6 linked regions of the Homo sapiens genome follow. The protein of the gene in region 4 purifies or fractionates together with the protein of the main gene of each other region. This does not show direct contact. Each region holds a gene or a part of one and is shown on either strand. Other genes may lie near its edges. The genes, in order: POLDIP3, NT5E, TMEM67, MST1R, PNPT1 and PLXNB3.

What was found.
Region 1: the proteins of MST1R (region 4) and POLDIP3 purify together in Homo sapiens (affinity purification with mass spectrometry; one large-scale study listed by BioGRID and IntAct). This does not show direct contact.
Region 2: the proteins of MST1R (region 4) and NT5E fractionate together in Homo sapiens (co-fractionation; one large-scale study listed by BioGRID). This does not show direct contact.
Region 3: the proteins of MST1R (region 4) and TMEM67 fractionate together in Homo sapiens (co-fractionation; one large-scale study listed by BioGRID). This does not show direct contact.
Region 5: the proteins of MST1R (region 4) and PNPT1 fractionate together in Homo sapiens (co-fractionation; one large-scale study listed by BioGRID). This does not show direct contact.
Region 6: the proteins of MST1R (region 4) and PLXNB3 purify together in Homo sapiens (co-immunoprecipitation; one study listed by IntAct). This does not show direct contact.

What each region holds. Positions count from the first base shown.
Region 1 is NC_000022.11:42,604,884-42,608,383, reverse strand, and holds part of POLDIP3 (polymerase delta-interacting protein 3), read left to right. Parts: intron 1-3,500. UniProt on the Homo sapiens protein: Is involved in regulation of translation. Is preferentially associated with CBC-bound spliced mRNA-protein complexes during the pioneer round of mRNA translation. Contributes to enhanced translational efficiency of spliced over nonspliced mRNAs.
Region 2 is NC_000006.12:85,456,583-85,460,082, reverse strand, and holds part of NT5E (5'-nucleotidase isoform 1 preproprotein), read right to left. Parts: intron 1-3,500. UniProt on the Homo sapiens protein: Catalyzes the hydrolysis of nucleotide monophosphates, releasing inorganic phosphate and the corresponding nucleoside, with AMP being the preferred substrate. Shows a preference for ribonucleotide monophosphates over their equivalent deoxyribose forms.
Region 3 is NC_000008.11:93,757,894-93,761,393, forward strand, and holds part of TMEM67 (meckelin isoform 1 precursor), read left to right. Parts: intron 1-589; coding exon 590-683; intron 684-1,966; coding exon of another isoform or gene 1,967-2,100; intron 2,101-3,500. UniProt on the Homo sapiens protein: Required for ciliary structure and function. Part of the tectonic-like complex which is required for tissue-specific ciliogenesis and may regulate ciliary membrane composition.
Region 4 is NC_000003.12:49,890,374-49,893,873, forward strand, and holds part of MST1R (macrophage-stimulating protein receptor isoform 1 preproprotein), read right to left. Parts: intron 1,466-3,500; coding exon 1,385-1,465; intron 1,208-1,384; coding exon 1,026-1,207; intron 934-1,025; coding exon 824-933; intron 278-823; coding exon 112-277; intron 1-111. UniProt on the Homo sapiens protein: Receptor tyrosine kinase that transduces signals from the extracellular matrix into the cytoplasm by binding to MST1 ligand. Regulates many physiological processes including cell survival, migration and differentiation.
Region 5 is NC_000002.12:55,641,845-55,645,344, forward strand, and holds part of PNPT1 (polyribonucleotide nucleotidyltransferase 1, mitochondrial precursor), read right to left. Parts: intron 2,877-3,500; coding exon 2,793-2,876; intron 1,582-2,792; coding exon 1,475-1,581; intron 1,370-1,474; coding exon 1,314-1,369; intron 1-1,313. UniProt on the Homo sapiens protein: RNA-binding protein implicated in numerous RNA metabolic processes. Catalyzes the phosphorolysis of single-stranded polyribonucleotides processively in the 3'-to-5' direction. Mitochondrial intermembrane factor with RNA-processing exoribonulease activity.
Region 6 is NC_000023.11:153,767,249-153,770,748, reverse strand, and holds part of PLXNB3 (plexin-B3 isoform 1 precursor), read right to left. Parts: coding exon 2,836-3,500; intron 2,501-2,835; coding exon 2,321-2,500; intron 1,802-2,320; coding exon 1,673-1,801; intron 1,588-1,672; coding exon 1,487-1,587; intron 943-1,486; coding exon 810-942; intron 658-809; coding exon 501-657; intron 412-500; coding exon 303-411; intron 222-302; coding exon 107-221; intron 1-106. UniProt on the Homo sapiens protein: Receptor for SEMA5A that plays a role in axon guidance, invasive growth and cell migration. Stimulates neurite outgrowth and mediates Ca(2+)/Mg(2+)-dependent cell aggregation.

The sequences.
Region 1 (3,500 bases), on a different chromosome or scaffold from region 4:
TGGTGTGATCTTGGCTCACTGCAGCCTGGACCTCCTGGGCTTAGTTGATCCTCCTGCCTTGGCCTTCTGAGTAGCTGGGACTACAGATGTGCATCATCACTTGCAGCTAATTTTTTTTTGGGGGGGGGGGTAAGGTTATAGATTAACAGCATCCCAAGGCAGAAGAATTTTTCTTAGTACAGAACAAAATGAAGTCTCCCACGTCTACTTCTTTCTACACAGACACAGTAACAATCTGATCTCTCTTTTCCCCACATTTCCCCCTTTTCTATTCGACAAAACCGCCATCGTCTTCATGGCCCGTTCTCAATGAGCTGTTGGGTACACCTCCCAGACGGGGTGGCGGCCGGGCAGAGGGGCTCCTCACTTCCCAGACGGGGTGGTGGCTGGGTGGAGGCGCCCCCCACCTCCCGAACAGGGCGGCTGGCTGTGCGGGGGCTGCCCCCCACCTCCCTCCCAGACGGGGCGGCTGCCGGGCGGAGACGCTCCTCACTTCCCAGACGGGGCGGCTGCTGGGCGGAGGGGCTCCTCACTTCCCAGACGGGGTGGCCGGGCAGAGAAGCTCCTCACCTCCCAGACGGGGTGGCGGTCGGGCAGAGACACTCCTCAGTTCCCAGATGGGGTCGCGGCCGGGCAGAGGCGCTCCTCACATCCCAGACGGGGCAGCGGGGCAGAGGCTCTCCCCACATCTCAGACGATGGACGGCCGGGCCGAGACGCTCCTCACTTCCTAGATGGGATGGCGGCCGGGAAGAGGCGCTCCTCACTTCCCAGACTGGACGGCCGGGCAGAGGGGCTCCTCACATCCCAGACGATGGGCGGCCAGGCAGAGACGCTCCTCACTTCCCAGACGGGGTGGCAGCCGGGCAGAGGCTGCAATCTCGGCACTTTGGGAGGCCAAGGCAGGCGGCTGGGAGGTGGAGGTTGTAGCGAGCCGAGATCACTCCACTGCATTCCAGCCTGGGCAACGAGCACTGATTGAGCGAGACTCCGTCTGCAATCCCGGCACCTCGGGAGGCCGAGGCAGGCAGATCACTTGCGGTCGGGAGCTGGAGACCAGCCCGGCCAACACAGCGAAACCCCGTCTCCACCAAAAAATACAAAAACCAGTCAGGCATGGCGGTGCGCGCCTGCAATCCCAGGCACTCGGCAGGCTGAGGCAGGAGAATCAGGCAGGGAGGCTGCAGTGAGCCGAGATGGCGGCAGTACAGTCCAGCCTCGGCTCGGCATCAGAGGGAAACTGGGGAGAGGGGGAGGGGGAGGGAATTTTTTTTGTATCTTTTGTAGAGACAGGGTTTTGCCATGTTGCCCAGGCTGGTTTCGAACACCTGGGCTCAAGCGATCTGCCCGCCTTGGCCTCCCAAAGTGTTGGGATTACAGGCATGAGCTACTGCTCCTGGTGTTTTTTATTTTTTAGAAGTTTTTTTCTTAACTCTTCCAGCTCTGCTGTTTACTCTTGACCCATGCTTATTTAATTGATGCTTGAACCAGGTACAGTGAAGTTCAAGTCCATTCCTCACCCCTTAGTAGCTCTTGGGATAGTTAATCTCCTTGGTTCTGAGTTTCCTCATTTATAAGATGTGAACAATAACCTGATTCACGGGGTTGTAACATTTAAAGGACGTCTAAAGCTGGGCATGGTGGCTCCATACTTAGAAGGCTGAGGCAGGAGGTCAAGGCTGTAGTGAGCTATGATCACTGCACTCCATCCTGAGCAGCAGAATGAGATTCTGTCCTTTTAAATTTTTTAAAATATGTTTTTGAGACAGGGTCTTGCTCTGTTGTCCAGCCTGGAGGACAGTATCTCGATCCTGGCTCACGGCAACATTGCAGTCTGGGGCTCAGGTGGTCTTCCTGCTTCAGCCTGTGGAGTAGACTCATGCTGCCATGCCCAGATAATTTTCTGCTTTCATTTTTATAGAGATGGAGTCTCACTATATTGCCCAGGCTGGTCCTGAACTCCTGGGCTCAAGCCATCCTCCTGCCTCAGCTTTCCAAAGTGCTGAGATTACATGGTGTGAGCCACCATGCCCAGGGAGTCTCGCTATGTTGCCCGTGCTGTTCTCGATCTCCTGGGCTCAAGCCATCCTGCCATTTGGCCTCCCAAAGTGCTGAGATTACAGGCATGAGCCACTGTGCCCAGCCTTGTTTCTTAAAAAAAAAAAAAAGTCTGTGTGAAAAATTGTCAACCTGTAGTGAGTAATACTCAGAAGTTTTCATTGATCATGTCCTTTATTTTTTTTGAAACAGAGTCTTGCTCTGTCGCCCAGGCTGGAGTGCAGTGGTGTGATCTTGGCTTGCTGTAACCTCCATCTCCTGGGTTCAACTGATTCTCCTGCCTCAGCCTTCCGAGTAGCTAGGATTATAGGCGCGTGCCACCACGTCTGGCTAATTTTTGTATTTTTAGTAGGGACGGGGTTTCACCATGTTGGCCAGGCAGGTCTTGAACACCTCACCTCAAGTAATCCATCAGCCTCGGCCTCCCAAAGTGCTGGGATTACAGGTGTGAGTCACTGTGCCTGGCCTAGCTGCAAGTTTCTGAGGTCACCCCAAAGCATAGTCCCAGTTTGTCTATGGCTTTGTAGGCCATGGAACACGAAGCCTAGGGTAGCCCAGTCCTAGGGAGGGTGGATGCCATCTACCACATACAACCATTTCTTTCTAATCGTGCATGCCGACCCCCTGAACACTCCCTTCCTTTGGCCCTGCTTTCTCTAGTGCCTCCATCTCCCAGAGTCCTCACATTAAAAAAATAGGACAGGAATGGCCAAGTAAACCTTAAGCCTTATCTGATTAATTGTATAAATGACCCTTCTACCCAGAACCCACTGGAAAATCTTTAAATCTGAATTTGCCACTCCAAAGAGAAAAATGATAGCATGCATCACTGCCTGTTTTAGTCCGTTTAGGCTACTATAAGAAAATACCCTAAGCTGGGTAACTTATAAAAAACAGAAACTGCCGGGCGCAGTGGCTCACGCCTGTAATCGTAACGCTTTGGAGGCCAAGGCAGGCGGATCACGAGGTCAGGAGATCGACAGCATCCTGGCTAACACGGTGAAACCCCATCTTTACTAAAAATGCAAAAAATTAGCCGGCCGTGGTGGCGGGCGCCTGTAGTCCCAGCTACTTGGGAGGCTGGCGCAGGAGAATGGCATGAACCCGGGAGGCGGAGCTTGCGGTGAGCCAAGATTGCGCCACTGCACTCCAGCCTGGATGACAGAGCAAGACTCCATCTCAAACAAAACAAAACAAAACTGAAGAAAAGAAACTTCCTTGTCACAGAGAGTCTGGGAAGTCCAGGATCAGGATGCTGGCAGATTCCATGTCTGATGAGGGCCTGCCTGCTTCCTGGTTGTAGATGGTCTTTTTGCTGAGTCCTGACATGGTGGAAGGGGCCAAGGAGCTTTCTGGGGCTTCTTCCTTATAAAGGGCACTAATCCCATTTGTGAAGTCTCTGTCCTCATGACTTAATCACTTCCCAAAGGCCACCACCTTCTA
Region 2 (3,500 bases), on a different chromosome or scaffold from region 4:
TATTATTACTTCATAATTACCTGAAGTAATTTCCAAATAAGGTCATTGTATATTCCCAAAGGGAAGGTAGTTTTTGGCCTGTATAGAGAATTCATGTGAATTACAAGCCAAACTTTATACACAAGCTTTCTCTCATGCCTAACTAATTGCAAGGTATTTTTAATAATCAAAACAAGAAACTTGGATTCAGAATATCTTCATTCTTTGATCGTTGATTCATATGACCTTCTGGGTCTTATTCTTAGTGAACAGGGTTTACCCAAAGCCACTGGACTTTTATAAGCTATCCACATCAAATGTAAATATTGACAAATACCCCCAGAAGGTGTTAAAAATACCAGACTGTATCCCACAGGGTTCATTTAACAATAACAACAGGATTTTGAGTCACAGAAGAATAAAATCTCCTTTGGTTCTTCACATTTTCATTTGGTTTTGGCTTTAAACATCAGGCAAAATTCCAGGTATTTGGGTTTCAAAAATACTGGGCTGGGCTAGGCTAGGAAATGGAAACTAGAGGGATGAGGCAGTAAAAATGTTCCAAGTGATGACAAGAGGCTGAAACATGTCAGAAGGGAAACAAAGAAATGTTAGACGGTAAAACAAAGGATAGCAGAGTTTCTTTAAAAGCAGTGTAGGATGCATGATGCAGAAGAAAAGAATTTTTTTGTTCCACATAAATAAATTTTAATAATGTCAAAAAGCCATTTGTCAGAGGTTTGCAGCACATTTATTTAGCTAGTCACTTACACGCTAGCTCATTCGTTAAGGGCTGAGGTTGCAGGAAGCCCTATAATTGAAGAGCTAAAGAGACAGCCTAGGCTGGGCATGGTGGCTCATGCCTGTAATCCCAGCATTTTGGGAGGCAAGAAGGGATGATTGCTTGAGCCCAGGAGTTTGAGACCAGCCTAGGCAACATTGGGAGACTCTCTCTCTCTCTGTCTCTCTTTTTTAAAGAGAGACAGCCTGATTTACTATATGACGGGGCTCAGTTGCCAATCACTCAACATCATCCAGGGAGGATTACAAATTACATTTGTTTTGGTTGATAGGTTTCTGGCATTGTTGCCCACTTCTGATGTTGGGTTGGCTTCCATCCCTGCAGTCCTGGGCCAAGGAATGTTGGCCACAGCAGGTGAATGTGGCATCACACTGAATAGCAGGAAACACCCTGGGGTTCAACCCAGCTGCAACTGGGTTTGGTTGTTGAAAGAATGTATGAATGAGCAAGTACCAAATAGACAGCATTCTACTTGTTTGGGGAGGGGGGACGTACAAACTCTCCATACGTGCAAAATAGGCACATCAACATTCAGAATTAACTGCCCAACTAATTGAGGTCCAGGAAGGTTCAACTATATCTCTGAGGGGCTAGAGGGCTCCAGCTAATATTTGGATTATATATAGAACTAATTATTCAAGTGAGGGAAAAGAAGTGTCAAAAGAATGTTCAAATTCCGATTATGTGGCTGAGGAAAATAAACACTGGAGAGTACAGAGCATTCAGATGTATTTGTGAGTGATGTGCAGAAAGCCGCCAATATGATGTTGATTTGTTTGGTTCTCTCCAATTTTCAGTTAAGAAAACAACAGATGCTATTAATAGTACGAGGACAAGATGAGCTGAGAAACTACCTTTACTTCCTCCCTCCCCTGCCTGAAGCTGGTCATCCAGCACCTCTCTGCTCTGGAATTTAGACTGAAAAAGAGGAAGCAGAGGCCTGAGGCCACAGCCCCAGGATGGGAGTGGTGCTGTTCCTGTCTCTGAGGTTGGGGATCCACAACCCCCTAGACATTCACAACTTCTGACACCTGAGCTTTAGGAATAATTACTTTTTTGGTTGTTGTTGCCTTTTTAAAAGTGTCATTGCAAACAGAATCTCTCTTTCAAGCTTCCCAAACTAGTATTGCTAATTTTTCTTTCCTCAAGAAAGGCTTCATGACTGAAGATAAAGTAATTGTGACAGTTTCCTTTAACATAAGAGTCCTTGTAAGCACTTGTCTCTCTTCTTAGGGACAAGTTTTTATGGGAGAAGAAACATGCTTACTGCTGATTTCGGCTTAGATGCTAAATATGAGGGTCTGATGTGTCTTCTTCTACAGACCAGATCTTTAGCTCAAGAATCCCCATGCATGGGTGTTAGAATTTCAGTCACTTTTGCTTTGCTGTTTAACCTCTCTCCTTTATAGATCTTACCCAGTCCCTCTGTGTAGTTAAGAGGAACTCGAATGGCCATTATCCACTCTGCTATCTTCTGAAGAGTAATTTTCACCCTAGCAGGTCCTGATCGCTATCCTCAGCACTTAGCAGAGAGCCTGGCATGTAGTAATGCTGAATGAAGATTTGCAGATTGAATGAATAAATGAGCCCCAAAGACTCAGGCTCAAAACTGGGCTCATACTCTTCCCATTCCCCAGGCCATCATTTCTGTTACTACCAGAGTAACATCCCGCGAGCATCCTGGAAACCTCTTCACCTGCAAACAGTGGCCAAATGGAAGCACCTGAAAGACCTACGCTATCTCTCCACAAGGAAATAGCTGCCAAAAAATAAATAAATAACTGTGAAGGAGAAATTAGAGAGTTGTCATGCAAACTTAGACTTGTCCAGAGACAAACCAAGTGATGTAGGCAGATTAGAAGCAAGAGAGAGGGGTGGGGAGGAGCTGAGGTGCTGAGAAGTAACATGCAGTAGACCACCCTCTCCAATTCCCCCATTTTATAGATAAGGAAACCACTGCCAAATTCACACAGCTAGTAAGTGGAAGAGCCAAGAAGTAAAATCTGGGTGTTCTGACGTCCCATCCAAATCTCTTTCCACTGCTCCTGTCTGCCACAGCCCTGTACAGTCCAATGGTGCCCAGTAAGTCCAGGAAAAGTCTTCAGACTGCATTTCAGGGCTTGAGGTAGCAGGCCTCAGCTGTCAGCGGTAAGCGGAAGTAGAAGAATCCAGCCTCTGTGTGGAAGCATTAAAACCTGCTGACTCTCCCATTGCCTGGTGCTTGAACCCTCATAATCATCTTTTGATTACACCCTCTCCTGAGCCACCCCTGCAAAGAGAAGGCAAGTACAGCCGGCACTTACTAGGGGCTGGCCCTGTGCTAAGCACATTATGTGCACTACTATCTCTTGTAAACCCCACAGCACCCTAGGGGTGGAGACAACAATCACATACCTCACACATGTGGAAATGGAGGTTTCATGAGATTAAATAACCTGCTCCCAGTCCACAGATTCTAAGTGGTAGGAAGGGGACTTGATCCCAGTCTCACCCCCACGTTTACTCCCTTAGCCCTATACCTACCAGACAGAATGCCTTTTGCAGCTGGTTCCCGTGGATTTGGTCTCCTCAATTACCAGAGTTCAGGTGTTATCATCTCACACTTGGACTGCTGCCTGGCCTCTTTCCTCACCCTCTTCTCTCTTGTCTTCTCCCTCCCACCCTTTTCTGCTCATCTTCCAAAACCGTGATTTCCCTATGTAGCTGGGAGGGTTTTTCC
Region 3 (3,500 bases), on a different chromosome or scaffold from region 4:
TTATAGGCATACACCACCACGCCCAGCTAATTTTTGTATTTTTAGTAGAGACGAGGTTTCACCACATTGGCCAGGCTGGCCTCAAGCTTTGGCCTCAAGTGATCCACCCACCTTGGCCTCCCAAAGTGCTGGAATTACAGACGTGAGCCACTGTGCCTGGACTAAATTTTTTAGGTATTTGAATTTTTAAAAATTAGAATAGAGTTTTAGAACAGGTAAGATTAACCTATTAACTGACCGTTGATTCAATCTTTTTGTGTTGTGTTGTGTTTTATATTTGTAAATGGAAAAACGAAATGACAAATAATTATGAAAGAGGCATCCATTTGAATTAAAGATCCTGAAGAAGAGAGAACTATTATCCGGAGTTAATCCTTTAATAGTTTTCAGGACATAGTGATAATATAGAGCTTCATTTTGGAATATAAGCATGAATTATCTCTCCAGGGAATTTTTATGTGGCTCATATATGTATGATTTATTTGAATATTCACTGTAGTTACATACTCTTATGGCATTTTGAACTTACATGATTAGAAGAAGAAAGTTAATTAAAAAAGAGAAAAGCATTTTTTTTCTTTTAATTTAGAAAGGTGTTACAGAAGATGGCTGGAACTGCATTTCTTGCCCTAGTGACTTAACTGCCGAAGGAAAATGTCACTGTCCCATTGGCCATATTTTAGGTAAGAATTAGATTCCTTATAAAGAAGTAGTGATAAATCTTCATTCTTGTTTTTGTTTTTATTTGAAAAGGGCACTAATTTAAATAGTTAAGTGATTACTTAATATTTTTGCAGTGGCTCAAGCAATTCTCCTGCCTCAGCTTCCTGAGTAGCTGGGACTGCACACATAACACCACTGCAGCTGGCTAATTTTTAAATTTTTTGTAGAGACTGGGTCTCGTTATGTTGCTCAGCCTGGTCTTGAACTCCTGGCCTCGAGAGATCTTCCTGCCTCAGCCTCCTAAAGTGCTGGGATTATAGGCATCAGTCACTGTGTCCAGCCCTTAATAGTGTTTATAAAAATTATTTTTGTACAAATTAATGATACTTAAAACATCAGCAGGCATTGAGAAGAAAATACAAAGTTTTGTCTGAGTTTTTTAAAACTCTTAATATTGTAGGATTAGATGGTTATTTCCTTAACATAACATGACAAAATATGTCTCAACTCAAAAGCCAACTTGATACTTAATAGGGAAAAAGCGTAAGCATTCCTGTTAATGTCAGGACCTGGAAAAGGATGCAAACTATGCACTTAAGTAAGAGAAAAAAAATATTTATCATTGGAAAAGAAAAGGTAGGCCGTTGTTAATCCTAGCACTTTGGAAGGCTAAGGCAGGTGTATTGCTTGAGCTCAAGAGTTTGAGACCAGTCTGGGCAACATGGTGAAACCGCATCTCTACAAATAAAAAAAAAAATTATTTGGTTACGGTGGCATGCACCTGTAGTCCCAGCTACTCGAGAGGCAAAGGTGGGAAGATCGCTTGAGCCTGGAAGGTCAAGGCTACAGTGAGCTGAGATGGCGCCACTGCACTCCAGCCTGAGCGACAGGGTAAGACCCTGTCTCATGAAAAAAAAAAAAAAAAAAAGTAAAATATCATTGTTTACAGATGATTTGATTGTATGTTTAAAACACCCAACAGAATGACTAAAAATTATTATAAACAGTGATGGAAGAAAATACCTCATATACAGTAGCAACAAAAAAGAAAAAATAAGTAGGCATATCCTTTTTTTTAATTTTAATTTTTATTTTTGTTTTTTTTTTTTTGAGACAGAGTTTTCACTGTTGTTGCCCAGGCTAGAGTGCAATGGTGTGATCTTGGCTCACTGCAACCTCCCTCTCAGGTTCAAGCGATTCTCCTGCCTCAGCCTCCCGAGTAGTTGGGATTATAGGCATGTGCCACCACACCTGGCTAATTTTATATTTTTAGTGGCTAACAGGGTTTCTCCATGTTGGTCAGGCTGGTCTTGAACTTCCGACCTCAGGTGATCTGCCTGCCTCAGCCTCCCAAAGTGCTGGGATACAGGCTTGAGCCACCGCACCTGACCTTGGCATGTACTTTAGAAGGAATGTACAACATAATTGAAGAAATTTGTGAGTATTACTGAGGGATATGAAGGCAGGCTTTTAAGTGAAAATGCATTCTTTATTTTTGGATGGGAAGATTAAATATTAGAAAGATGCAACTCTTCTACCAGTCTGTATATTTTAAAGGACCCTAATAAATTCTATCAGGATATTATTTGTTTGTTTTGGGGTAATATACAAATAGAGTCTGAAGTTTAACAGGAAAGTTATATGAAAAGCTAAGAAAATTCTGGGAAGGGAAAGAAGGAACTACCCCATCAGATAATATGCATGTTATATAGCTACTATAATCACATATATGACAGGCTTATGGATACACAGACTGATTGATGGAACTTAAAACAGGCAATCAGAATAGATTCAATTCATATAGGAATTTGGTATGTGAAAAAAGTGGCATTTCATATAAGTGGGGATAAAACTGATTAATGATGCTGGGAAAACTGAGAAAACACCCAGGTTGGGTTTCTACCTTATTTCTGAGAAAATTAAACTCCAAATGAGTCAAATACTAAATATGAATATATGAAAGTTCTTAAAGAAAATGCAGGAAAAATTTGTATAGTTTTGGTTTAACAGGCCTAAGTATGACCAAAAATACTCAGTCACTTTGGAGGCCTAGGTGGGACGATTACTTGAGCCATGGAGTTCCTGACCAGCCTGGGCAATATAGAGAGACTCTGTGTCTACAAAAAAAAAAGAAAAAAAGAAAAACCACAGAAGAAAAAATTGGTAAATTTATAAAATGCCATAAAAATTATAATACCAAAAACCAAACTACAAACTAAAGAAAAATATTAATGCATACAATAGACAGAGGTCGAAGTTCTTCAATAAATGTAAAGCTCCTACAGATAAATAAAAGTAAGATGAATAACCCAATTTTTAAAATAGCCAAGAGTCATAAATAAAGTTCACATAGAAAAAAATATTTTAACGTGAGAAAAAAATGTTCAACTTTACTCAGAGTAAGAAAATGTACGTTAAAGCTAAAATGAGATTTTATTTTTAACCTACCAGATTTTATTATAAAATTTTTTCGACCGGGCACAGTGGCTCACGCTTGTAATCCAGCACTTTGGGAGGCCGAGGCAGGTGGATCACCTGAGTTCAGGAGTTCAAGACCAGCCTGACGAATGTAGTCGCTATTAAAAACTCAAAATTAGCCTGGCATGGTGGCACATGCCTGTAATCCCAGTTTCTTGGAGGCTGAGGCAGGAGAATTGCTTGAACCCAAGGAGGTGGAGGTTACAGTGAGCCAAGATCACGCCATTGCACTCCAGCCTGGGCAACAAGAGTGAAACTCCATCTCAAAATAAAAAAGAAACTTTTTCAACTTTGACAATGTATTTATAAGGATACAGGGAAATAGTTATTCGTGTATTAATGGGAAAAATTTTAAGTTG
Region 4 (3,500 bases):
GTCATCTACCCTGGGGACTCCCTGGGCTCAGATCATTCAGAGCTGAATGGGTGAGGCCCAGTGTTCTTGGGTGCCAAAGCCATGTGGACTGTAGGGCAGGTGGGGCCTCACCACATCAGACTTGGTGGTAAATCTATAGGTCTGCAGGCTCTCCAGCGCCATCCACTTCACAGGTAGGCGAGCGTGGCGATGCTGTTGAACACTATAGTACTCCCTGTCCAGGATGTCGCGGGCCAAACCAAAGTCAGCCACCTTGACTGTGAATGACTCGTCCAGCCTTAGGGGTAGGGAGAGGATCACACTTAGGACTGGCCCTTACCAGGCCCTGAACCCACCTGTTCTAGGCCCTTACAGAATTTTTTTTTTTTTTGAGACGGAGTCTCGCTCTGTCACCCAGGCTGGAGTGCAGTGGCGCGATCTCCGCTCACTGCAAGCTCTGCCTCCTGGGGTCACGCCATTCTCCCGCCTCAGCCTCCTGAGTAGCTGGGACTACAGGGGCCCGCCACCACGCCTGGCTAATCTTTTTGTATTTTTAGTAGAGACGGGGTTTCACCGTGTTAGCCAGGATGGTCTCGATCTCCTGACCTCATGATCCGCCTTCCTCAGCCTCCCAAAGTGCTGGGATTACAGACGTGAGCCACCGCGCCTGGCCAAATTTCAAAGCCACAGTGTCCAGTCCAAGTCTGCACTGGGCAGACAAAAAAAGTAAGGTGCAGAGAGGGGAGGACAAGGCTGGAGTGGGCCCTTCCCTGAGGCGGCCTTGAGCACCGCACACCCTCATGCCCTGTCCTTTTGCTTCACCCCAGCTACTCTGGACTCTCACATGCAGTTCCGCGCAGCCAGGTCCCTGTGCACAAACTTCTGCTCTGCCAGGTACTCCATGCCGCGGGCTACCTGCAGGCCAAAGCTGATGAGGTCCTTCACGGTGGGGTTCTGGGGGCACAGGTGGGTTGGTGGGCAAGGGCACAGCAGCTCCTTCTCCAGCTGCTGCCCAGCCCCCAACCCAGAGCCAGATGAACACTGACCCGCTGAGGTGAGCGGATGAACTGGAGCAGGTCACCGTGGCACATATAGGGCAGCAGCACATGGGGCAGGCCCTCAGGTGGCAACATGATACCAATGAGAGCCAGCACATTCGGGTGGTTCAGGCCACGCATGAGCAGCCCCTCTCGCAGGAAGGCCTCCACCTGCTGCATCTCTGTGATGCCTGCAGAGCAGCGCAAGTCAGGCACAGGGCAGGGCGTCCCTTTATAAGGCTCAGATGGGGAAATGGGAAATGAAGGTCTCCTGCTCAGGGTCACTCAGTAAGGTGGGAACACAGAGAAAAAGAATCCTCCCAGCCTGAGGCCCCTCCCTCTGCCTTCCCATCTTCTGCCCCACTTACGACTTAGTGACTTGATGGCACATTGGATTCGATTCTGGGCCTGGTCTATGTATTCTCCGTGGTAGACAACTCCAAAGTGGCCTGGTGTGAGGTGCATAATGAGTCGATGAGAGGGGATCCAGGGCCCAAGGCTCACACCACACATTCTCATTGGCAACCAGACCTCAGAGCACTAAACTGGCCAATCTGACATTTTATTTATTTTTAATTTTTATTTATTTTTTTTGAGACCGAGTCTCACTCTTGCCCAGGCTGAAGTGCAGTGGTGCAATCTCAACTCATTGCAACCTCTGCCTCCCAGGTTCAAGTGATTCTCCTGCCTCAGCCTCCTGAGTAGCTGGGATTACAGGCAACTGCCACTACACACAGCTAATTTTTTTGTATTTTTAGTAGAGACTGGGTTTCACCATGTTGGCCAGGCTGGTCTCAAACTCCTGATCTTGTGATTCACCCACCTAGGCCTCCCAAAGTGCTGGGATTACAGGTGTGAGCCACCACACCCGGCCCAATCTGACATTTTAAAAAAGCAGCAGGGCTGCGTGCAGTGGCTCACACCTGTAATGCCAGCACTTTGAGAGGCCAAGGCGGGTGGATCACGAGGTCAGGAGTTTGAGACCAGCCTGGCTAATATGGTGAAACCCCATCTCTAGTCCCAGCTGCTTGGGAGCCTGAGGCAGGAGGATAGCTTGAACCCGGGAGGCAGAGGTTGCAGTGAGCCAAGATCGTGTCACTGCACTCCAGCCTGAGAGACAGGGCGAGACTCCATCCCCCTCAAAGAAAAGCAGCAGAAGCCAAGCGCAGTGCGCCTGTAATCCCAGTTACTCAGGAGGCTGAGGCAAGAGAATCGCATAAGCCCAGGAGTTCAAGGCCAGCCTGGGTAACATAGTGAGATGCTGTCTTTTTTTTAAATTAAAAAAAAAAAAAAAAGGCTCATGCCTTTAATCCTAATACTTTGGGATGCTGGGGCGGGAGGATCAGCTGAGGTCAGGGGTTCAAGACCAGTCTGGCCAACATGATGAAACCCCGTCTCTACTAAAACTACAAAAATTAGACAGGTGTGGTGGCAGTGGCAGGCCCCTGTAATCCCAGCTACTCAGGAGGCTGAGGCAGGAGAAATGCTTGAATCCAGGAGGCAGAGGTTGCAGTGAGCCGAGATTGCACTACTGCACTCCAGCCTGGGCAATAGAGTGAGACTCTGTCTCAAAAAAATAAAAATAAATAAATAAGTAAATAAAGCAGGGTCGGGTGCGATGGCTCACGCCTGTAATCCCAGCACTTCGGGAGGCCGAGGCGGGCGGATCACCTGAGGTCGGGAGTTTGAGACCAGCCTGGCCAACATGATGAAACTCCATTTCTACTAAAAATACAAAAATTAGACGGGCTTGGTGGTGCACGTCTGTAATCCCAGCTACTTAGGAGGCTGAGGCAGGAGAATCACTTGAATCCGGGAGGCAGAGGTTGCAGTGAGCTGAGATCATGCCACTGCACTCCAGCCTGGGTGACAGAGTGAGGTTCTGTCTCAAAAATAAATAAATAAATAAATAAATAAATAAATAAATAAATAGGCTGGATACAGTGGCTCACGCCTGTAATCCCAGCACTTTGGGAGATCAAGGCAGGCAGATCACCTGAGGTTAGGAGTTTGAGACCAGCCTGGCCAACATGGTGAAACCCCATCTCTACTAAAAATACAAAAATTAGCCAGGTGTGGTGGCGGGCGCCTGTAATCCCAGCTACTAGGGAGGGTGAGGCAGGAGAATTGCTTGAACCTGGGAGGGGGAGGTTGCAGTGAGCCAAGATTGCACCACTGCACTCCAGCCTGGGTGATAGAGCAAGACTCCATCTTGAAAAAATAAAATAGGCCGGGCGCGGTGGCTCACACCTGTAATCCCAGCACTTTGGGAGGCTGAGGCGGGTGGATCATGAGGTCAGGAGATCGAGACCATCCTGGCTAACACGGTGAAACCCCATCTCTACTAAAAATACAAAAAATTAGCCGGGCACGGTGGCAGGCGCCTGTAGTCCCAGCTACTTGGGAGGCTGAGGCAGGAGAATGGCATGAACCTGGGAGGCGGAGCTTGCAGTGAGTCGAGATCGCGCCACTGCACTCCAGCCT
Region 5 (3,500 bases), on a different chromosome or scaffold from region 4:
GCTTTTTTTTTTTTTGAGATGGAGTCTCGCTCTGTCGCCCAGGCTGGAGTGCAGTGGTGCGATCTCATCTCACTGCAACCTCTGCCTCCCGGCTTCAAGCGATTCTCCTGCCTCAGCCTCCTGAGTAGCTGGGATTACAGGCATGCACCACCATGCCTGGCTAACTTTTGTATTTTTAGTAGACATGGGGTTTCACCATGTTGGTCAGGCTGCTCTCGAACCCCCCACTTCCTGATCCACCTGCCTTGGCCTCCCAAAGAGCTGGGATTACAGGCGTGAGCCACCATGCACAGCCGAAATTGGATTTAAAAATATGTGCCAATTAAGCATTCAGATATGTTTAAAATAAGCCATCAAAAGAAAAAAAAAGAAATAAAGAAATATTGCTAAGTCTATTTTGGGCCTATTTAATATTTACTGGGAAAATTAATTTGGGGTTTCACCAATTACTAGTAGAAAATTTGGTTAAAGAATTCAGTTGGCCGGGCGCGGTGGCTCAAGCCTGTAATCCCAGTACTTTGGGAGGCCGAGGGGGGCGGATCACAAGGTCAGGAGATCGAGACCATCCTGGCTAACAAGGTAAAACCCCGTCTCTACTAAAAATACAAAAAATAATTAGCTAGGCGTGGTGGCGGGCACCTGCAGTCCCAGCTACCGGGGAGGATGAGGCAGAATGGCGTGAACCCGGGAGGCAGAGCTTGCAGTGAGCTGAGATCGCACCACTGCACTCCAGCCTGGGTGACAGAGCGAGACTCTGTCCCAAAAAAAAAAAAAAAAAAAAAAAAGAATTCAGTTAAGAGAACCTATCATAATTAGAACCACAGAACTGCTACTTTAATTTTATAAAATGATATAGAAAACAAAATATACTATACCTTAAAAAATAATGATTATATGGCAATTGGCATGTAATCTAAACACCTTATGATTTCAAAGTAAATGTAAAATTAAATTGGGATTATAATAGGAATCTGTTAAAAACCAAAACAGGGCTGGGCACGGTGGCTCATGCCTGTAATCCTGGCACTTTGGGAGGCTGAGGCAGGAGGATGGCTTGAGGCCAGGAGTTTAAGACCAACCTGGGCAACATAGTGAGACCATGTCTTTACAAAAAAATTAAAAAATCAGCCACGTGTGGTGGTGTGTGCTTGTAGTCCTAAATAGGAGGCTGAGGTGGGAGAACTGCCTGATCCCAGGAGTTCAAGGCAGCTGTGAGGTACAATGGCACCACTGTATCCCACTGTGGGTGGCAGGGTGAGACCCTGTCTCTAAAGAAAGGAAAATGCTCAGCATAGTATATTACTTGATATTACCTGATTTCAGTTATTGTGGCGGTATATACTGCTCCAAATTCTAATTGCTGCTCCTGCTGTAAGTGCAAAATAAGCCATAAGATTCATAAAGAAAACATCAACAAAAAGTAGAAAAAACAAATATAGCTATATGATACGTAATTAATATGATCTATACTTACATCATCCTTGCAGATTTCAGTAATGAAGTCTCTTGCCTCATGCATAGCACTGGGTGTTGGTGCAAATACAGAAAACGTTTCTTCATCCACCTGACTAATAGTTACACCTTTTAAAAACAAAATGTAACATATTAAAGTTAACTTGGCTGGGCATAGTGGGTCACATCTGTAATCCCAGCACTCTGGGGGGCTGAGGTGGGAGGATCACTTGAGCTCAGGAGTTCAAGGCCAGCCTGGGCAACATAGGGAGAGCCTGTTACTACAAAAAATAAATTCAAAAATTAGCTGGACCTGGTAGCATGTGCCCACCTACTTGGGACTCACAGTCGGGAGGATCACTTGATCCCAGGGGTCAAGGCTGGAGTTAGCTGTGATTGTGTACTGCACTCCAGTCTGGGTGACAGAGCAAGGCCCCATCTCAAAAAAAAAAAAAGTTAACTTGCTCATTCCAGTGGAAACTCGTCTTAAAAATAGATGTGAGAATAGGAGGGACCTATTAGTAGCTGGGTGGAGTTATGCTGTATTTAATCATTACTTTAGGAATGAAGGAATTCATTCATCAACAAATACACTCTGCATACTTGCTAGGTACCTGGCATTATACTAGGTAGGCCCTGGGGATACAATGGTGAGCCAATATGCTTGATTTCTTGAAATTCACCATCTAGTGAAATCAAATATATCTATACAAATTTTGGAGAGTCTGGTTCTGCTCTCTTAATTACGAGTAGAAACTATAATAGAACCCTTTCCTTACTTTTTTTCTTTCTCCCGCTTACTCTTACGAGGGGTGAATAAATGAATAAGGGACAAAATCACATCAGTTTCTCAGTGTTAGCAAATGGCTAAGGTGACAGTGCTTCTCACTCTCTTGCAGTAACCTCAAACCTTGAAGTACGAGGTAATTCAAACATTGCTTCAGGAAAAATAAATTAAAGCTTTTTTTTATATACTCTTTAAATAAAAGAGTTAAAATAAAACTAAGTGAAAGTAGCAGAATAAAAAGAAATAACTAAGTAATAATTCCTCTAAAGTTAAAAACTAAAAATTATTCTAGATGTTCAACTATAAAATGTTGCAAAAAAGTCCTGATGAATTCTTTGTAATCCTTCTTGAATTTAGTTAAGAATGACCATTTGCTAATTTATTAATAGGCACACAGAAAACTCACAGTCAAGACACGTCATATCCTTTTCTCCTGGTCTTTCTCTCATTTCTCAAATAAATATATATTTAAAGCAACATACTAGAGATGAAATAGCAAACTTTTATGGTCTAGCATTTAATTAAAAAACCCCAAACTTCATACAACTCTTACCTGTTTCAGCCTGAAGTTTTTTTAAGTTATAGCCACCAGGTCCAACAAATTTTGCTCGTTTTGATAATGGAACCTGAACAGTTTCTGGAACGTAATACAGACAAATATATAAACAATTCAACTACATACATGAACCTAAAACATGCCATGGTCACTTGAGATTTTTTTTTTTTTTGACCTAGACACATGTAAAAATATTTTACTATAAAACAGAAAAGTAGATGATTAAAATTACTGAAAACTGTTAAAGAATATTCCCTAAAATTTAAAGCATTTTAACTACAAAAGTATTTAAAATATTTTCGTTTTGTGCACTGGGTAAAAACAATTTAAAAGCAGTAATATTCATTCATATATTAATGTTTATCTTACCATGATCACTAAAATTTTTTTTTTTTTTTTTTTGAGACGGAGTCTCACTTTGTCGCCCAGGCTGGAGTGCAGTGGCGCGATCTCGGCTCACTGCAAGCTCCGCCTCCCGGGTTCATGCCATTCTCCTGCCTCAGCCTCCCGAGTAGCTGGGACTACAGGCGCCCGCCACCACGCCCGGCTAATTTTTTGTATTTTTTAGTAGAGACAGGGTTTCACCGTGTTAGCCAGGATGGTCTCGATCTCCTGACCTTGTGATCCGCTCGCCTCGGCCTCCCAAAGTGCTGGGATTACAGGCGTGAGCCACCGCGCCCAGCCGATCACTAAAATTTTAATGTA
Region 6 (3,500 bases), on a different chromosome or scaffold from region 4:
CAAGAGCCCTCAGCCCTTCAGAACTCAAAGGGCCTACTGCTGGGCGGGTCTGGGAAGGGTGGAGAAGGGACAGCCCTGTCTCTGCCCGAAGTTCGGGCCCACCCACCTCCTGGGCGCTGTAGATGGTCCTCTCGCCCTCTGGGCAGTGCTCTCCGTACACGCAGTGGCTACTCTGCGGGCACCAGTGACACCGCCAGATGCTGCCCACGCAAGCGCGACACCTAGAGGGGCAGGGTGGCTGCTCAACTGAGTGCCCTCTGGGGTCGCCACCCCTACCCCAGGAGGCAGGCCCAGGGACTCACGGGGCAGCCGCCTCCAAGGCCTGGACGGCACTGCAGTCATAAAAGGAGAAGTTGGTGGCAGCCACAGTCACGTCCTCGAACATCAGGGCCAGGGGCACAGTGACGTGGTCTGGGAGGGGACAGTGGGGGCAGGACAGGTCAGGTGGCTCATTACCCCTCCAGCCTCCATCCCAGCCCCCTACCCCATGGGCCACTCACCTGTGCCTGGAGGGTTAAGTGGCACCTGGTCTTGGGGAGGGGTGACACAGGCCACGTGGGGCCCTTCCACATGAGCCAAGCTGTCATAGTCCCCGAACGCACAATGGAAGTATTCATCTGCATCCAGGATGGGCAGCCGGGGGACAGACAAAGTGACCTGGGATGCAGCGGGGAGAAACCGGGAGATGTAGCCAGAGAGAGGGGGCAGCAGAGGCCATGGGAGAGGAAGGAGGACGGGAGGCAGGCGGGGTTCATGCTCCAGGCAGTGGTCATGCTGCCCAGAGGGCCCAGTGGTGGTGGGCGGCTTACCTGGCCCTGCTCCTGGCGGGGGTGGTGGCCCGGCAGCAGGCTCTGGATGTGCAGGCAGTGGCTGTCCTCCTCATAACTCCACAGCCACTGGTTCAGCTGGCCTGCCCGCCCGCACTGGCCCTTCCGGGTACACCTGCCAGGCAGGGGTCCATCAGGTCACCGTGGGGGTCCTAGACTCCAAGGATGACCGGCAACAGGGGCCTGGGGAGGCCGGCCCAGCTGGAGTGCAGTGGGGTGCAATGAGCAGGAGGCGTGAAGGGGACTGTGTCCAGAGAGAAAGGGGCCAAGCAGGCAGGGCCTCATGGCCAAGGCGTGGGCTCCAGCCCTGAGAGGCAGGTGCGGCTGGGCTGAGGGACGCACAGTGACTCAGGGCTGCCTTAAAGGATTCCAGGGGCTGCCGTGTGGAGCACCGGCTGGAGGACAGCTGTGTGGGGTTCTGGACCCTGGCTGGGGCTGCTGGGATGAGGAGTCCACAGGCCGGGTGGTGTCGGAAAAGGGGGGTGCCAACCAGATTGACGGCTCAGTGAGATGGGGCAGGATGGGTGACCTCCGTGGTGGCCCTGAGTCTCTCCAACAGGCAGGGTTGGCCTCCCGGCACGCCTAGGGCTACTTCCAGGGGCAGCCTCGTGGCACACACCACCCGTTGGCCCTAGCCTAGGCACAGGCCCCGTGCTCACCTGCCCTGGAGGACACACCAGCCACACAGCGGGTCCTGGGCCTGGAGGCAGCTGGCACAGTCAGGGAACTGGGGGCAGGCTGCCACAGGTATCCGGTCCACCTGGAGGGGCAGCAGAGCAGAGAGGCAATGGGCACGAGACTTGGGCCGCGTGTGCTGGCCCCTTCAGCCCCAGGATGGCCCTCACCTGGTGGGCAGTCAGGACATAGAGGTGACTGCCACTGCTGTCCAGCAGCAGGTCTGGGCTGATGGCTGAGCCTGGAGGCCCCACTTGCTGGGAGTGGTAAACCTGGCCCTGGGAGCCGTGGAGAAAGACCTGAGTGGGGGGACAAGGACGAGGCTGGGCCAGATGGCCAAAGGTTGCCTGTTCCAGGGACACGCCCTCCTCCTAGTGGGGGCTCCTTTTTAGAGCCAGTTCCCCTTCCTGCCGGGCCATCGAGGGAGGACACATCACTTCCCCCACTCAGCACCCTCAGGCCTAGGACACTCTCCAGGGAACCATGACACCGGGGCAGCAGCGGCACCCTGGGTGAGGCCCCGTGTACCAGGGACAGTTCTGCCAGGTGGGAGGGCAGCTATGGGGAGACAGGAAGGTCACCAGGAGGCACCACACCCTGCCCACCTCACCCAGCCACCCCAGCCACCTTCACCGTGAGCCACCACCAGCTGGTGAAGGCCGGGCTGCAGGGGGCAGTGCTCAGCCAGCAGTCACTGTGTGGCAAAGTCCCCTGACCCAACCGTGGGATGCGGGCTAAGAGGTGGAAGTTGCTGGGGGCTTTCCTGAGCCTCCGTGGCCAGGGGCACACCCAGCCGGACAGCAAGGCCGGGCCCTCACCTTGTACAGCTGGCCCTGGGTGTCCCCCAGGAAGGCTATCATGTGCCCATCTGCCTGGAGAGCTGCCACGGCGCTGACCGGCTGCCCGAGCTTCAGCAGAGGCTGGACCTCCAGGGGCTGGCGGCCAGCAATGGGGCTGGGGGTGTGCTCGTCGCCACAGGGGTACGACTCGGGGGAATCCTACGTGGCAGGAAGTGGAGAATCAGCCCCCGGAAGAGAGCAGAGAGGCAGTCAGGGGGGGTACCCAGGCTGCCAGCGGGAGGAGAGCCAGGCACCCTGGGATGACCCCAAGGCCCAGCAATCAGGGCCGAAGGGCCAGGGCACCTGGCAAGCTCATAGCATCCAGAGGGAGAAAGGTGGAAAGAAATGGGTGGAGAGCAGGCAGGAGACCTGGAGACTCAGCTGACCCCTGGCTGAGAGGTTGGCTGGCACTTCCCATGGGCAGGCACCCCTGTCCAGTGCTGAAAGATGCCAGCCATCCACAGAGAGGGGGGATGGAAGGGCATGCCACTCACAAGGGGCAGGGTGACGCAGCGCGACGTGACGCCGTACTCCACGGTGGCTTCCTCTGCGCCGCTGGGGCCCCGGCCGCCCGCCGTGTAGCAGAGTCTCCGGGCCTGCTCCATGCTGGCACCCAGCTCCACCATGGGGAAGGCACAGAGCGCCGCCTGGGTGCCCCTTGGGCCCGCGGCAAACACCCCTAGCAAGGTGCCCGGGGCAAGGAAGGCGGCCTGGATGAGGCCCTGGCCCTGGCAGGCGAGGGGGACCTCCACGTAGGAGTACAGGTTGGTGTCCCCCAGGCAGACGCGGGCCACGTAGGAGCGGTACTCAGCCTGGGCCCGGGCCCCGCGGCGGCGGAACACGAAGTAGGCGGAGCGGGCGTCGGCAAAGGCCCCGACGTAGCTGTTGTTGTAGTCGGAGAAGTCGCCCACCACCAGGCGGCCCAGGCCCTCGCTGGAGAAGGGCTGAGACCCGGCCAGCTGGCGGATGGCCAGGGGTGGCACCCCTGCCGACAGCTTGCCCGCCAGGCCTCTGGCCACAAGCAGGAGGTCCCGGCCGGGCAAGGGCACCACCAGCCCCACCGTTGCCACTCCCGGGGTATTGGCAGCCACAAACTGCCCGTCACCAGGGTCCTCAGCCTGGTACAGCACCTCGGCCACATCCCCAAGGCGCCGTGTCT